2 linked regions of the Homo sapiens genome follow. The protein of the gene in region 2 interacts with the protein of the main gene of each other region in a pairwise test. Each region holds a gene or a part of one and is shown on either strand. Other genes may lie near its edges.

Region 1 (8,062 bases), on a different chromosome or scaffold from region 2:
TCAGTCTGGGCAACAGAGCCAGACCTTGTGTCCAAAAAAAAAAAAAAAAAATCCAGTTATGAATCCAATCACAGCATATGGTAGCTGACAGTGTTTTTTGAACTCCTCTACTATAAGTACACACATATATACTTTTTCAAATTTTACAAAATAATATCACGTTTTGACTTATGTAGTATGCTAAGCATTTTACATGGATTCATTCATTTTCATCTCATAACCCCATAAGGAAGGTACATTATTGTCCACATTTTATGTGTAAGGCAACTGAGACTTTGCTAGGTTACATATTTAAAAGTGGCATTCAAACTCCAATCTGGGCTAGGTGTGGTGGCTCACACCTGTAATCCCAGCACTTTGGGAGGCTGAGGTGAGAAATCACTGGTGCCTAGGAGTTCAAGACCAGCCCTGGCAAGACAGACCTCTTCTGTACAAAAAAGCAGCAGCAGCCAGGCGCAGTGGCTCACACCTGTAATCCCAGCACGTTGGGAGGCTAAGATGGGTGAATCATCTGAGGTCAGGTGTTCAAGACCAGCCTGGCCAACATAGTGAAACCCCATCTCTACTAAAAATAGAAAAAATTAGCTGGATGTGGTGGTGGGTGCCTGTATTCCCAGCTACTTAGGAGGCTGAGGCAGGAGAATCGCTTGAACCCAGGAGGCAGAGATTGCAGTGAGCTGAAATCACACCATTGCACTCCAGCCTGGGCAACAAGAGCGAAACTCTGTCTCAAAAAAAAAAAAAAAAAGAACAAGAACAAGACAAAACAAACTCTGCTCTTAAACCACACCTGTTTACCTGCGTATTGCTTTCTAGTCCAGAACCTGCCAAAAATAAATGGAGACAGTGTCCCTGTTCGTGTACCAGCAGTACTATATCTATAATCACAACTTTTTTGAAAATCTGACATCAGTATAATTTTAGAATTTACCACTTAGATTTATATAGTTGAGGTATACAAGTAGAGATGTTATTAAATGTTGCCTGTAGGTTTCTCTTTTTTTTTTGCAGGGTGGGGATGGAGTTTTGCTCTTGTTCCCTAGGCTGTAGTACAATGGCTTGATCTCAGCTCACTGCAACCTCTGCCTCCCAGGTTCAAGCGATTCTCCTGCCTCAGCCTCCAGAGTAGCTGGGATTACAGGCGCCCTCCACCACACCCAGCTAATTTTTTGTGTTTTTAGTAGAGATGGGGTTTCACCATGTTGGCCAGGCTGGTCTGGAACTCCTGACCTCAGGTGATCCACCTGCCTCAGCTTCCCAAAGTGCTGGAATTACGCGGTGAGCCACCGCGCCCAGCCGAGATTTCCCTTTTTGTAGCAATATGTAATAAGGACTTTGGAGCATAAGAGCTAGAAGCTTTAAAATATCAATTGTGTGATTGCTCTTGTTAAAAAAATTTTTTTTTAATTAATTGAGTTGCTCTTTTCTTAAAATGAAATTAATTGTGTTTCTTTATGTTCTTAAAGGAAAGATAAAAATTCAAGATATTTTAGCATGCAGCTTCCTAGATGATTTATTGGAGGTAAATGTTTTTAAACTACTTAATTGTATCACTTGACAGTTGCTATCTTCTAATTATGTCTTTGTGTTCCATTAGCTAAGGGATGAGGAACTGTCCAAGGAGAGTCAAGAAACAAATTGGTTTTCTGCTCCTTCTGCCCTAAGAGTTTATGGTATGTTCCTATCATAATGCTAAAATTTGAATTATCCATTCTTCAGGAAATTGGTGTTCAGAGGACAGTTTTATACATACACTGATATACCTTAAGATCAAAATATTTAATTACCTTAAGCTTTAGTATTCTACATTACCAAAATTTACTTGTTTAAATACCGATGTTTTAACTTTTTGGACTCCCCCCAACCTTTTCTTTTTGAAGACAGGGTCTCACTCTGTCACACTGGCTGGAGTGCAGTGACATGATCACGGCTCAGTGCAGCCTTGAAGTCCTAGGCTCAATCCTCTCACCTCAGTGCCCCTACCCCACCCACCCCACCACCCCCAGTACTGGGTCTACAGGCGCCATGCCTGGCTAATTTATTTTATGTTTTTTTAGAGATGGGATCTCACTGTGTTGCCCAGGCTGGTTTCAAACTCCTGGGCTCAAGCAGTCCACCTGCCCTGACCTCCCAAAGTGTTGGGATTATAGGCATGAGGCACTGCACCCAGCAGAACCCTTTTTAAGTTATACACTTCCTTTTCAATAGAACAGAATGTAATTTGATCCTTGTTGACTCAGGAGCATCATTATGAACATTAGCTATTGTCATGCTTTGTTGATAAAATGCTATTCCCAGGGTCTACTGATGGAGCTAATCTACATTATCTTGTTGGGTGGTCTTTTGACTCCTTTGGCTTTTTTTTTTTTTTTTTTTTTTGGAGATAGAGTCTTGCACTGTTACCTGGGCTGGAGTCCAGTGGCATGATCTCGGCTCACTGCAACCTCCACCTCCCAGGTTCAAGTGATTCTCCTTGCCTCAGCCTCCCAAGTACCTGGGATTACAGGCGCTCGCCACCACACCCGGCTAATGTTTTTTTTTTTTGTTTTTTTTTTTAGTAGAGACGGTGTTTCACTATGTTGGCCAGGCTGGTCTGGAACTCCTGACCTCTGATCTGCCCTCCTCAGCCTCCCAAAGTGCTGGGATTACCGGCGTGAGCCACCACGCCCGACCTCCTTTTGGCATTCTTATCTCTACTTTCAAGTGCTAGCATTTCAGTGCTTTTTGTTGGCCTCTACCTCCATTTAATTTAGAAACCTAGGAATGTTTAAAAAGACTGCAAACTGAAAACAAATAATGATGTAAGTGAAACAGCCCAGAGACTATGGCCTTCATGATGGGTTTTTTTGGCTGTTTCTAGCCCAAGGGTTTTTCTGATCAAGATTGCAAAGGTAGCTGATAGTATTACACATAGGCCACTACCCTAATCATAACATGAATAGTTTGAAAATCAAAATATTAACCAAGAAAAAACTTTTTGTTAGTCTATTCTTCTGATTAAAATTTTATTGTGGTCATAAGTGTCTTTATTATTTTTCTTCCCAAGGCCAGTACTTGAATCTTGATAAAGATCACAATGGCATGCTCAGTAAAGAAGAACTCTCACGCTATGGAACAGCTACCATGACCAATGTCTTCTTAGACCGTGTTTTCCAGGAGTGTCTCACTTATGATGGAGAAATGGTAGTAGTTTAAATCTGCTGCTAAGTTTTAAAAGTTTAGGCTCCCAGAGTTTCCACAAACCCTTTTCTTGATGTAATACAGCCCTTTTTTTTTTGAGACAGAGTCTTGCTCTGTCGCCTAGGCTAGAGTGCAGTGGTGTGATCTCCGCTCAATGCAACCTCCACTTCCTAGGTTCAAGTGATTCTCCTGCCTCAGCCTCCGGAGTAGCTGGGATTATGGGTGCATGCCACTGCATCCAGCTAATTTTTGTACTTTTAGGAGAGATGGGGTTTCACCAGGTTGGCCAGGCTGGTCTTGAACTCCTGACCTCAGGTGATCTGCCTCCCAAAGTGCTGGGATTACGAGGCGTGAGCCACCACACTCGGCCCAGCATTATTGATATCACTGTGTAACAGTGTCTTTAAAATGTGTAAACTGATCAAATTACTTGAGATTCAGAGTCTTTGGTCTTAACGTAAATTAAAACATCTGCATTATGGCCTCAGGGCAAATAGAAAAGCTTATTGTTCATTTCATTGTCAGTGCACCTACTGTACAGTAGTGCATTCTAGTTTTTTTTTTTTTTTAAAAAAAAGCTGAGGCCAGGCTTGGTAGCTTATGGTTATAATCCCAGCGCTTTGGGAGGCCAAGGCCACAGAACCACTTAAGGCCAGTCGTTCAAAACTAGCCTGAGCAATACAGCGAGACTGTCTCTACAAAAAATAAAAAAATTACTTGGGCATGGATGGAATGTGCCTGTAGTATAGCTACTCGGGAGGCTGAGGCAGGAGGATTGCTTGACCTGAGGAATTTGAGGCTGCAGTGAGCTATGATGAGGCCACTGCACTCCAGTCTGGGCAGTAGAGTGAGACCATGTCTCTTAAAAGCTGAAACATTAGTAAATTATTCTGGCTATTTTCAGCTAGATAGTTCCGTCATTAAATTACCAGGTCAAATGTAGTAACACATATGCCATGATTTAATTCTGAGAATCAGGTTGTATTAGTCTCTAGAAGTGGCTATATGAACAGCTGAAGATAACATGCACTTGTCTTTTTATTATAACAATGCAAAATACTTGAGAAGGAAAATTCTAAACAGCATTTTAAAATCACCATTTTTGCTGCTAAAAACATGGGTTAAGAATCTGATAACTTTGGGAGGCCGAGGCGGGTGGATCACAAGGTCAGGAGATGGAGACCATCCTGGCTAACACGGTGAAACCCCGTCTCTACTAAAAATACAAAAAATTAGCTGGGTGCGGTGACGGGCACCTGTAGTCCCAGCTACTCCAGAGGCTGAGGCAGAATGGTGTAATGGTGTGAACCCGGGAGGCGGAGCTTGCAGTAAGCCGAGATGGCGCCACTGCACTCCAGCCTGGGCAACTGAGCGAGACTCCATCTCAAAAAAAAAAAGAATCTGATAAATTTCCCAAACCAGTTATGCTTAAAAAATAGTCATATTGTCATGAGAATGGGGGGGTCTTACATTTATCATTTAGCTTCAATAGCAGTTTGCTAAATAACACCATTAGTAACAACAAAAGAAAAGAGGGGAAAAGGCACAGAAAATTTACTTTGTAACTCCCACAGCTGTAAACAATAGACAGTGAGGAGCTTATATTATTAATATAATGATTCCTGATGAATAGAGAAAATCAGGCTACAACTATGGATGAAGTCAGATCACAATCTGCATTCTTTAACTCTTTAGTGCTATTTATGCAGAAAGGAACTTTTCTAAGAATATAAAATTTTTATCTAAGTGAGAACCTCCCAATTACTACTTTTTACCATTAAAAAAAAAATCTGAGTATCCTGTTTTTTTGTTTTGTTTTGTTGTTTTTGTTTTTGTTTTAGATGGAGTCTCCCTCTGTCGCCCAGGCTGGAGTGCAGTGGCGCGATCTCGGCTCACTGCAAGCTCCGCCTCCCGGGTTGACGCCATTCTCCTGCCTCAGCCTCCCGAGTAGCTGGGACTACAGGCGCCCGCCACCATGCCCGGCTAATTTTTTTTTGTATTTTTAGTAGAGACGGAGTTTCACCGTGTTAGCCAGTATGGTCTCGATCTCTTGACCTTCTGATCTGCCCGCCTCGGCCCCCCGAAGTGCGTATCCTGTTTTTATAGGGAAGGCTTTCTGTTCTCTTCATGTCTTTCTGGCCTTTCCATTTTGCCTTTTTATGGATGAGAGCAGTGTCAGCTCACTGTAAAATGTCTGGCAATCTCAAGACAGCTTCTTATTGGAAATCTGAATTAAAAATTTTAAACAATATTTTAAAATAGCAATTTAAATATACTGTTCTGAGACTGGGCACGGTGGCTCACACCTGTAATCCTAGCATTTTGGGAGGCCGAGGTGGGTGGATCACCTGAGGTTGGGAGTTTTGAGACCAGCCTGACCAACTTGGAGAAACCGCTTCTCTACTAAAAATACAAAATTAGCCAGGCGTGGTGGTGCATGCCTGTAATCCCAGATACTCAGGAGGCTGAGGCAGGAGAATGACTTGAACCTGGGAGGCAGAGGTTGTGGTGAGCCAGGATCGCGCCATTGCACTCCAGCCTGGGCAACAAGAGCGAAACTCCATCTCAAAAAAAAAATTATACTGTTCTGTTCATTCCAGATAAAAAATTTGTTTTTCAAAATAACTGCACTGAAATGAAGTTATAAGTTTATAGCTTAGTCATCTGTTTCAAAAGTTTGAAGCAGGATGCAGTAGTTCATCCCTCTAGTCCCAGCACTTTGGGAGGCCGAGGCCAGATGATTGCTTGAGCCCAGGAGTTTGAGACTAGCATGGGTAATACAGGAAAACCCCATCTCTACAAAGAATTTAAAAAATTAGCCAAGTGTGATGGCGTGTACCTGTAGTCTCAGCTGCCTCGGAGGCTGTAGTGGGAAGATTGCTTGAGCCTGGGAGATCAAGGTTGCAGTGAACTATGATCGTACCACTGCACTCCAGCCTGGTTGATAAAGTGAGACCCTGTCTCAAAAACAAGAATAATGAAAGAAAATTATAGTTTAACACAGCAAATCTCTCATAAAAAAATGAACTAGGGCTGGGCACAGTGGTGCATGCCTATAATCCCAGCACTTTGGGAGGCCGGGGCAGGCGGGTCACTTGAGGTCAGGAGTTTGAGACCAGCTTGGGTAACATGGAAAATCCTGTCTCTACTAAAAATATAAAAATTAGCTGGGCATAGTGGTGTGCACCTGTATTCCCAGCTACTTGGGAGGCTGAGACAGGAGAATCGCTTGAACCTGGGAGGCAGAGGTTTCAGTGAGCTGAGATTGCACCACTGCACTCCAGCCTGGGCAATAGAGCAAGACTCCGTCTCAAAAAAATAAATAAATAAAAAAGAACTATGTCCTCAAAACTGTCCTGTGTAGATTATATATAGAATTCCTATGGCTGGGCAGGGTGGCTCACACCTATAATCCCAGCACTTTGGGAGGCTGAGGCGGGCGGATCACCTGAGGTCGGGAGTTCGAGACCAGCTTGACCAACATGGAGAAACCCCATCTCTACTAAAAATACAGAATTAGCCAGGCATGGTGGCACATGCCTGTAATCCCAGCTACTCCGGAGGCTGAGGCAGGAGAATTGCTTGAACCCGGGAGGTGGAGGTTGTGGTGAGCCAAGATTGTGCCATTGCAACTCCAGCCTGGGCAATGAGAGTGAAACTCTGTCTCGAAAAAAATTCCCTAGAAACCAATATTAAGTATATAAATGGATTTCTCATATCATAACTTAGGGAAAAAATTAAATTTGCCACCTTTGATTGCAAAATAGCTTCAAATCATAAGATATTCACTTGAAAGTTAATTTCAACTAAGGCCTCTAATGAACATTATTTTCTGTTCTGTAGGACTATAAGACCTACTTGGACTTTGTCCTTGCATTAGAAAACAGAAAGGAACCTGCAGCTCTACAATATATTTTCAAACTGCTTGATATTGAGAACAAAGGATACCTGAATGTCTTTTCACTTAATTATTTCTTTAGGGTAAGTCTCATTTGCATAAGTGAGTCATTGTTCCTTAAGATATATCATTTTGTTGCTGCCGGTGCAGTGGCTCACGCCTGTAATCCCAGCACTTTGGGAGGCCGAGGCAGGTGGATCACAAGGTCAGGAGATAGAGACCATCCTGGCTAACATGGTGAAACCCCGTCTCTACTAAAAATACAAAAAATTAGCCAGGTGTGGTGGTGGGTGCCTGTAGTACCAGCTATTTGGGAGGCTGAGGCAGGAGAATGGCGTGAACCCGGGAGGCAGAGTTTGCAGTGAGCCGAGATCGTGCCACTGCACTCCAGCCTGGGCGACAGAGCGAGACTCCGTCTCAAAAAAAAAAAAAAAAAAAAAATTGTGAGATGCAGCAAAAGCAGTGGCTAGAGGGAAATTTATAGTATTGAATGCATATACTGGAAAATGTTAAAGATCTAAAATCAGCATCTACTTTAGGAAATTAGAAAAAGAAGAGCAAATTAAAGATATATCATTTGGTTTAAATTAAATATTTAGTAACCATTTTACCTAACTCGTGATTTTTATTTATTTTTTTCTTTTTTTGAGAAAGGGTCTGGCTCTGTCGCCCAGGCTGCAGTGGCATGATCATAGCTCGCCGCAACCTCCAACTCCTGGGCTCAGGCAGTCTTCCCACTCAGCCTCCCCAATAACTGGGTCCACATGCCTGTAATCCCAGCTACTTGGGAGGCTGAGGCAGGAGAATCACTTGAACCCAGGAGGCGGAGGTTGCAGTGAGCTGAAATCGCGTCACTGCATTCTAGCTTGGGCAGCAAAGCAACACTCGGTCTCAAAAAAAAAAAAAAAAAAAAAACTACAACTACCAAAGTCTATAAAAATTTCTGTGGAAAGGAGCTACCTTTTCTGAACTGCTTAGCATCTT
Region 2 (8,062 bases):
CTCAGCCTCCCAGGTAGCTGGGATTACTGGCACCCGCCACCATGCCCGGCTAATTTTTGTATTTTCAGTAGAGATGGAGTTTCACCATGTTGGCCAGGCTGGTCTCAAACTCCTGACCTTGTGACCTGTCCACCTCGGCCTCCCAAAGTGCTGGAATTACAGGCATGAGCCACTGCACTCAGCCGGCAGTCTTGAATTTTTAACAGAGGAAGGGTTGGTACAGGTTGGACACAGCAATAGCACAAGTGTGAGGTGGAGACAGGCAGGCTATGACCCATGTCAGGGCAGACAGGAGGGCTGTGTGTTTGAGTATGAGGTTGGGGGCGGGTGCACGCACAGAACATGGCTGGGTTCAGGGGAATAGCCAGATTGGTCTCTTCTCATGATCTGCGCTTCACTGCCAGCTTGCCCTACACGATGGTCCCAACATTCCTAGGGGCCTTGGGGGACAGAGGGATTTTTGGAGGTCCCTCCTATTGTCTGCCCACCAGTGCTTATGTCTGGCATAGCAAAAATAGAACAAGACACCCCTTTGGAGCCCAGGCTTCATTTAAAGGCAAAGACATTTGAAGAAGGCTCAGACATGGGGTAGAGTGATGGTGGTGGGGAGGAGTGGGACAAAGGGGGACCCTGGGGACAGAGGCTTCAAACCCAAACCAATCCTTTGCCTGATTTCCCTAGAGTTACCTCACACATGGCCCTGCATTTGCCCAGAAAATTAAGAACCAATCAGCAGGCTGTCCCAAGGGGCAAGAGGCACTGCCTGCTTTAATGAGTGTGCCCCCTCCCACCCCCAGGCTTTCTCTGGCTGCCTTTGCTGCCTAACTAGTCTGGGTAGGAGAGGTGCCACTCACTACAGAGACTTGTTCCCAGTGCCTTTTGCATGTGTGGGACCCGGTCCAGCAATGGCAGGACACCTGTTGAACATCACCCAACCCCATGGCAGCTGGGCCAGGTTGGGAATTTGCTGGCAGCTGGCACAGAGGTGCCCAGGTGCAGCAGTGAGAGAACAGGAGCAGGCTGCTGTGGTAAGGAGGGGTGGGGATTGCCCGGGCAGAGCCATACCTGGAGGGGCACCAGTCAGCAGCGTGAGCTCAGTCTTCACACAGACCCCTGCCCTGTTCCCTTTGAGCGTCAGTCCCCTCATCTCTACACTTGAGGGGGTGGGATTGGACTTGGTAATTTTAGGGCCTGCCCTCTCTGACATCTTGGGGGGCTGTGATTTCTCACCAACTGTCACTGTGCAAAAGCACTGTTTGACCTGGGTTTGACCCCAGCTCTGTAACTTACTGGCTGCATGACCTTTGGTAAGCTGCTCCTTTCTCCAGACTCATTGATTCCAATCTGTTAGGAGAACTCAAAGGATAATCTTTGCAAAGTGTCCAGGCCCAGGGTCCAAGGTAAATGGGTTCCACTCTTAACAGAGCTGTACCTCCCCTAGTGCCAGTGTCCCCTCTGAGGCCAGCCTCACCACTGCCCTTTTCACATCTGGCTCCAAGTAACAGAAACCCCAACTTGGATCGGCTTAAATACTAAGGATATTTATTGTCACACACCACATCAACTCACGACATAGAATGCTGCCAGAATTGGTGGATGCTCAGGCTCAGAAGCATCCTCGAGGTCTCAGGATCTTTCCAACACCCCGAATTACCATCTTCAGCTGGCTAACGGCTCATGGGGGCACTTCATCCAAATAGAATGAAAGACCAGCAGATAAGAGGCAGCCTCTCTTTTTTTTTTTGCGACCAAGTCTCTGTCCCCCAGGCTGGAGTGCAGTGGCGCAATCCTGGCTCACACTGCAACCTCTGCCTCCTGGGTTCAAGCAATTCTCCTGCCTCAGCCTCCCGAGTATCTGGGATTACAGGCGAGCGCCACCATGCCCAGCTAATTTTGTATATTTAGTAGAGATAGGGTTCAACCATGTTAACCAGGCTGATCTTGAACTCCCGACCTCTGGCGATACGCCCACCTTGGCCTCCCAAAGTGCTGGAATTACAGGCCTGAGGCACCGCACCCAGCAGCACCCTCTCTTCTTGTAGGTGGTTTTAAAGAGCAACTGGAAACCAACCTTACCCAGCCATCCCTCAGCAGACCTCCTTCCTGTCTGATTAGCCAGGATTGGGTTACATGCACTTCCCTGAGCCAATCACTAAGGAGGGGTGTGGCTCTGCCTTGCTGGTATAAATGTGGAAGGTTATGGAGGCGGAGCCACCCGAACCCAAGGGCCATCTGCTGGTGATGAGGCAAGGAGGGGCATGGTGGTGGGCTAGGTGGCCCTCAGTGGAGCCTGGTGATGATGGCAAAGGCTGAACTGGTGAGTTAAGGGGTAGATGGCCTGTCGGACTTCACCTGGTCCAGCCTGCTGGAACCAACATAGGGTGGGCCGTGTAAGTTACTCCTACCCCGGCACCTTGGAAGGGGCCCATTGCCCAACAGGCTGCTCCTGTTGTTCTGGTCTCCTACAGAGCTGGAGTGGAGCTCCGGGAAGCCATGTGTGCCCACCACCATCCCCTCCTCTCTCAGCCCCACAGCTGGCCTGTCCCCAAGCTCTCCTGGGGCCCCTTCCATCCCCACAGACCCTGCCCTAGTGCTAGCCTCCCCTCAGGCCCCTGCCATCCATTCTCTGAGGAGCAGCCAGGGCATCCCCTGCCTAGCCCTTCCCCTGGGCCCCCTGTTACTATCACGACAAGGCAAATCCCACTCTCAGCCAGGTCCACAGGCCCTGTGCCCTCCAGCCTCCTGGCTTATGGCTCCAGCTCATACAGGCATTCTGCAGCCCCACTGGACAGCTTGCTGTTCTCCACACCCACACTGCCCCTTCCCACCTCCAGCCTCCACCTCTGCTGCACTCGCAGTCTGGAATGGCCTTCCTCTTCCTTACCTACTGCCCTTGTCCTTCAGGTCCTCCCTGAGGAATGGGGTCAGAAGTCATGGCTTTCTCCTCGCACACCCCAGCTCCCACAACCACAGCTTGCTTAGGACTCTACATGTTTGTGTGTGTGTGTCTGTCTGTCTGTCTGTCTGTCTGTCCCCTATCCTCCTGGATGATGGTGGGCTACAGGGTCGGGGGCAGAGTCTGGCTCTACAGCACCCCACAGGCATCTGGAATGGAGAAGCCCCCCAGAGTCAACATTTGCTGAGTTCAGTGAAGTTGAACTTACATCTTAATAGCAAAACATCCATTGTCTCCTTTAACCTTACAACAGGCTTTCAAAGTGAGGAGTTTGAGGCATATCCCCATGGGATGATGGGAAAAGTAGGTCCCAAAGAGGAGAAGGGACTTGAAGGCCACACAGCAAGGTTGAGGCAGACCCAGACCCAGAGCCAAGGGGTCCTAGATCCCTAGAGACCCCAGCCCAGCATCTGCTCCCAGCAGCTACTCCTCCAGATGGCGGCCACTATGCCTGGGCAGAGCAGGCAGAGGTGGATGTGGGTGGGCCCAGGGGAAATAAGGCGGTGGGCGTGGAGGGGCCATGGAATGAAGGCTCTGTCCCCAGGGGAAGCAGGTCTGCCTCCATGGCTGGGGGTTAATGGCTTTTCTGAAGATCACAGCTGAGGGTTAATGACATTCCATAATTCCACTACCGCTGTGGCCCTTCCATTAGCATCTGCAGGCGATGCCTGCCTCTCCCCGCCCCCATCCTGCACACACATCAGCCACAGTACCCTCACCAGGGCTCTGGCGTCAGACTGCAGGTCTTCTAACTTTGAGTTCCCACCACTCCTGCCTGCACATGCACAAGACAGGCTGACCCTCCCTCCCCAGTCCTAGGTCTGAAGTGATCTTTCCTAAGTGACTTGCCCTGGGAAACTACTCAGGGAAAGGGCTGTTCCTTATTGGGCCGGCAGCCACTCACCACCTCTGGCTTCATAGGCTCCATTTAGACACATGAATAGGTCCCAGAAAGGGCAGCTAGCGTCTACTAAATAACCCTCTTCCAGGGTAGGAGCAAGGTATGGACGGCAGGGGACTGAGTCACAGGTGCCCCAATGCCTGGCAGACAGTCCCAGCCATGTGGACCCTCCTGCACCCAGGAGAATGGGGTGACTCTGGGAGGGACATGGTTTGGGGATCAATCTTGAAAGATCACTCCCAAGCCCCACAGAAGTCAGAACCAACTTCTCTCACCGGACCTGTTGGCCAAGCTCCCATAAGAAGTGGGATGTTCCCATCATTGCAGTCTCTGTTCAGGTGTCCAGGGCACCCTAGCCCTGCAGTGACTGCAACCCATCTCCCCAGGGGCAGGGGCAGACACAGCTGAGCCTTGGGCTGGGCCTGGACAAACCAGGCCCATTAGTGTGACCGTCATCAGCACCCTGCCACTGTGGGGAAGTGGACCTACACTGATATTTCATGATCCTGCATCAATAACTCCTGGAGCCGCAGTGCATTTGTGCTGACCTTTTCGAGCAATGACTGATTCCTGTGGGGGAGCAGGAGGTGGGAGCGGCTGCTACTGTTGCTGACAGCCCCTGGCTGGGGAACAGAGGCAAGGCAGCCACTTGGTGGGTCTGTAGCAACGACCCGCAGCCCCGCCCTGTGCTGGGACCCTGCAGGGCTGCCTGCTGGGAGTTATGGGCCGATGGCCATCTCCCATCTCCCACCTTCTGGCCTTGGCAGATGCTGGGCCTCCCCCTGGAGTCTCTCCTCATTTCAGGCGTCCTCTGCACAGGGTGTGCTCAGTGCCACTCCACATTTTTGATTGTGCTGTTTTCCCATCCTGAAGACCTTTATCCCTCTCTTCACCCAGCCAGACCTTCCTTCAGAGCCTTTCTCTGGTTCTGCTTCCTTTAAGGAGGCTTTTCTGACCACCCATGGGAATATTTCATATAGCTCTCTTATTGGGCAGTGCTACAGTTAATACTGTCTTGTTTCATTGTTTAAATCATACCCATGTGTGTGCCCTAACTGCTGACCTAGGGTGCCATCAAGTCCCCCGAGTGCCCACTGGCCCACACTGCGGGCACACGGAGCCTCTGTAGTCTGCAGAGATGTCTTGGCCTCTGCAAGGGGCTGGGGAAACTGTGTGGGAAAGAGAGGGGCTGGTGACACAGACAGAGGTCATGTCTAACTTGGCATCTGTGACACCACCAGCCATGGGTGTGAACACAGATACAACACTTTAGGAAAACAGTTTACCAATAATGAATGAGGTGTCCTAAAATACACATGTCCTATAACCCAGCAATTCCATTTTAGGTAGTTGTACTAAGGAAGTAATTTGCGACATGAAGATATGTAGCAGAGAACGTTCAATGCAGTGTTATTACAGGGAAAAATGGGAAGGAAGAAATCAGGGCACTTGGACATGAACTTCATATCCTGAAGTTACTCAAGTCATGGGTAATGAGCTTTCTGTGACTTTGGATCTGCTTAGGTTTTACTGGCAAATGAAAAATGCAGGATGCTAGAATGGTGATTATACACAAAATATACACAGAAAAAAACTAGGAAGAAGCACAGTTTTATGAATTATTGTGTTTATCATAGGAACACAGGAGCTGTTTTTCTTCTTCCTATTTTTCTGCATTTTCCTAAATGTATTTATTAGGTGTGTGCTGCATTTATTTGTTTATTTATTTATTTATTTATTTTATTTATTTAGAGACGGAGTTTCGCTCTGTCACCCAGGCTGGAGTACAGTGGCGCAATCTCATCTCAGGGCAACCTCTGCCCCCCCGGGTTCAAGCAGTTCTCCTGCCTCAGCCTCCTGGGTAGCTGGGATTACAGGAGTCCCCCACCACACCTAGCTAATTTTTGTATTTTTAGTAGAGACAGGGTTTTGCCATGTTGGCCAGGCTGGTCTTGAACTCCTGACCTCAAGTGATCCACTTGCCTTGGCCTCCCGAAGTGCTGGAATTACAGGCGTGAGCCACTGTGCCCAGCCAGCTTGCTTTTATAGTTGGGAGAAACATTTGTGACAAATCTAGATACACAAAACCAAATATCTGTGTATGCCTTGATTTGGGAGAAGCTGTGGCCCCCACCACCTGCTCCTACCCTCTCCCTCCAGCTGTCCAAGCCTGGGGGACCCCCAGAGCAGCCCCTGTGGAATCAGTCCTTCCTCTTCCAAGGCCGAGATGGAGCTACCAGCTTCTCAGAAGACACAGCCCTGGTGCTGGAGTACTACTCCTCAACTTCAAGTACGTGACCCCTGGTGCCTCGCCAGGGCAGCCATGCCTCAGGAGATCTGTATTATGAAAGGGTGTTCAGACCATCCCACCTCTGCCTCCCACAGGGATGGATGGTTCCCAGGTGTCCAGGCGGCTTCCTAATGCAGGCAGAGGAGAGCTGGCTGCGTTCCTTGTCCACAGGCCAGGACACGTGGGCCTGTCCCATACTAGGTCTTGGCCCCAAGCTTTGTTTTATTGCACCCATCAGTGATGGGGGAGGGCTGGAGCCCTCGGAACTCACAGAGAGGGGTGAGGGAGATGGGCTTCAGAGACCAGCTGATCCACAGTTTTCTGCACTGTGGGATTGAAGCCCCCAAAGGGTAGAGATGAGGCTGATGTATATAAATTCCCAGACACACAGAGTATGTTTAGAGTTGGCTTTGAGTTCACAAAGCCCTGAAGATGAGAAGAGGATGTATGTGCAGGGAAAGGCCAGGAGGCAGGAAAGCAGGCAGCGGGAGACAGGAGGACTGGATGTCAGGTATTAAAGGATGGGGCCGAGGTGGGGGCTTTGGCAGGAGCCCTAGTTGATCCTTCCCCCACAGTGAAAGGCAGCCAGCCGTGGACCCTCAACCAGCCCCTGGGCATCTCTGTGTTGCCGCTAAAGAGCCGTTTGTACCAGAAGATGCTGACAGGGAAAGGCTTGGACGGGCTTCACGTGGAGCGGCTCCCCATCATGGTGAGCCCCCTGCCCTGAACTGGGCCCCTAGCGTGCCCACCTGGCCCCACCCTGCCTCACCCTGCCCCACCTCACCACACCTCCATAGGAGAATTTGGCTTCTCCAGAAGCTTCTGTCAAGGCACCCACCAGGGAAGTCACCCAGTCTAGAAGTGAGGAGCTCCCTGGAACCCCAGAAGCCAGTCTTGCCTCTGGGACTATGACGAACCAAGCCAGAGAAATTGCCCCTGAGCAACTTGGGAGACAAGTACAGGGTGACCCTGTGAGACAGTGCAAGAGTTCAGGCTTTCAGCCAGCCAGACCCTGATTTGAACCACAGTTCAAATCCTCACTGTGGAAATTCAGGCACATTACTGAACCACAAGAGTCCTCGTCTGTAACACAGGAGAAGCATGCCAAGTACACAATCTCTGTGTATAACAAGAGAGTTCAGAGCTCAGGCTCTAGAGCCAGACTGTCTGGGTCCAAATTCTGGTTCCACCACATACCAGCTAACATGACCATGGGAAAACTACTGAAAGTGTCAATGCCTCAGTTTCCTTGCCTATAAAATGGGTACATGGCAATAGCACTTTTTTCATAGGGTTGCTGTGAGATTTCATGAGAAAACCCATGGAAAGCACTTAGAGTAAGTTCTCAACAAGAATGAATAATATCGTTACCATCATTCTCTATTCCTATGCCACCATTTCCCCTAAAATACTTCTGGCCATCCTGACATAATAGACCTCAATGAATGAGAATCTCTCTGTCAGATGAGCCTGGTAGTGCCAGACAGGTCTCTAGAGGGGTTTAGAAGGGGTGGTGTGGAGGCAGTTTGCGAGGGCAAAAGCAGGAGGCCAGCTCCCACCTCCCTCCCACCCTCCTGGGTGCAGCCCGCAGGTGACACCTTCCAGAGAAATCTAGAACAGTAGGTGGGGCAGAGGCGGAAGCTGCCCTGGCCAGCATGGTCTGAGTGCTCCCTTTTCCTCCCCAGGACACCAGCCTGAAAACTATCAATGATGAGGCCCCCACAGTGGCTCTCTCCTTCCAGCTGCTTTCCTCTGAGGTAAGGCTGTGGGCCAGGGGAGGGTCAGGGCCAGCAGGCACATGTCAGTGAGATCCAACTTCCTTCACAATTGCTGGCTTTGTTCAGGGACTTCTGGGAGGATGGGACTACTACTTTGGATAGAAACGTCTAAGGGTGATTTGAGACTCCAGACAAAC

The links. The genes of interacting proteins can lie anywhere in the genome.
Region 1: the proteins of CCDC33 (region 2) and PPP2R3C interact in a two-hybrid assay, tested with the Homo sapiens proteins (2 studies listed by BioGRID and IntAct).

Annotation. Positions count from the first base shown.
Region 1 is NC_000014.9:35,090,169-35,098,230, reverse strand, and holds part of PPP2R3C (serine/threonine-protein phosphatase 2A regulatory subunit B'' subunit gamma), read left to right. Parts: intron 1-1,466; coding exon 1,467-1,522; intron 1,523-1,597; coding exon 1,598-1,673; intron 1,674-3,046; coding exon 3,047-3,183; intron 3,184-7,023; coding exon 7,024-7,161; intron 7,162-8,062. UniProt on the Homo sapiens protein: May regulate MCM3AP phosphorylation through phosphatase recruitment. May act as a negative regulator of ABCB1 expression and function through the dephosphorylation of ABCB1 by TFPI2/PPP2R3C complex.
Region 2 is NC_000015.10:74,273,946-74,282,007, forward strand, and holds part of CCDC33 (coiled-coil domain-containing protein 33), read left to right. Parts: intron 1-5,173; exon of another isoform or gene 5,174-5,347; intron 5,348-6,017; coding exon 6,018-6,147; intron 6,148-6,722; coding exon 6,723-6,856; intron 6,857-7,832; coding exon 7,833-7,904; intron 7,905-8,062.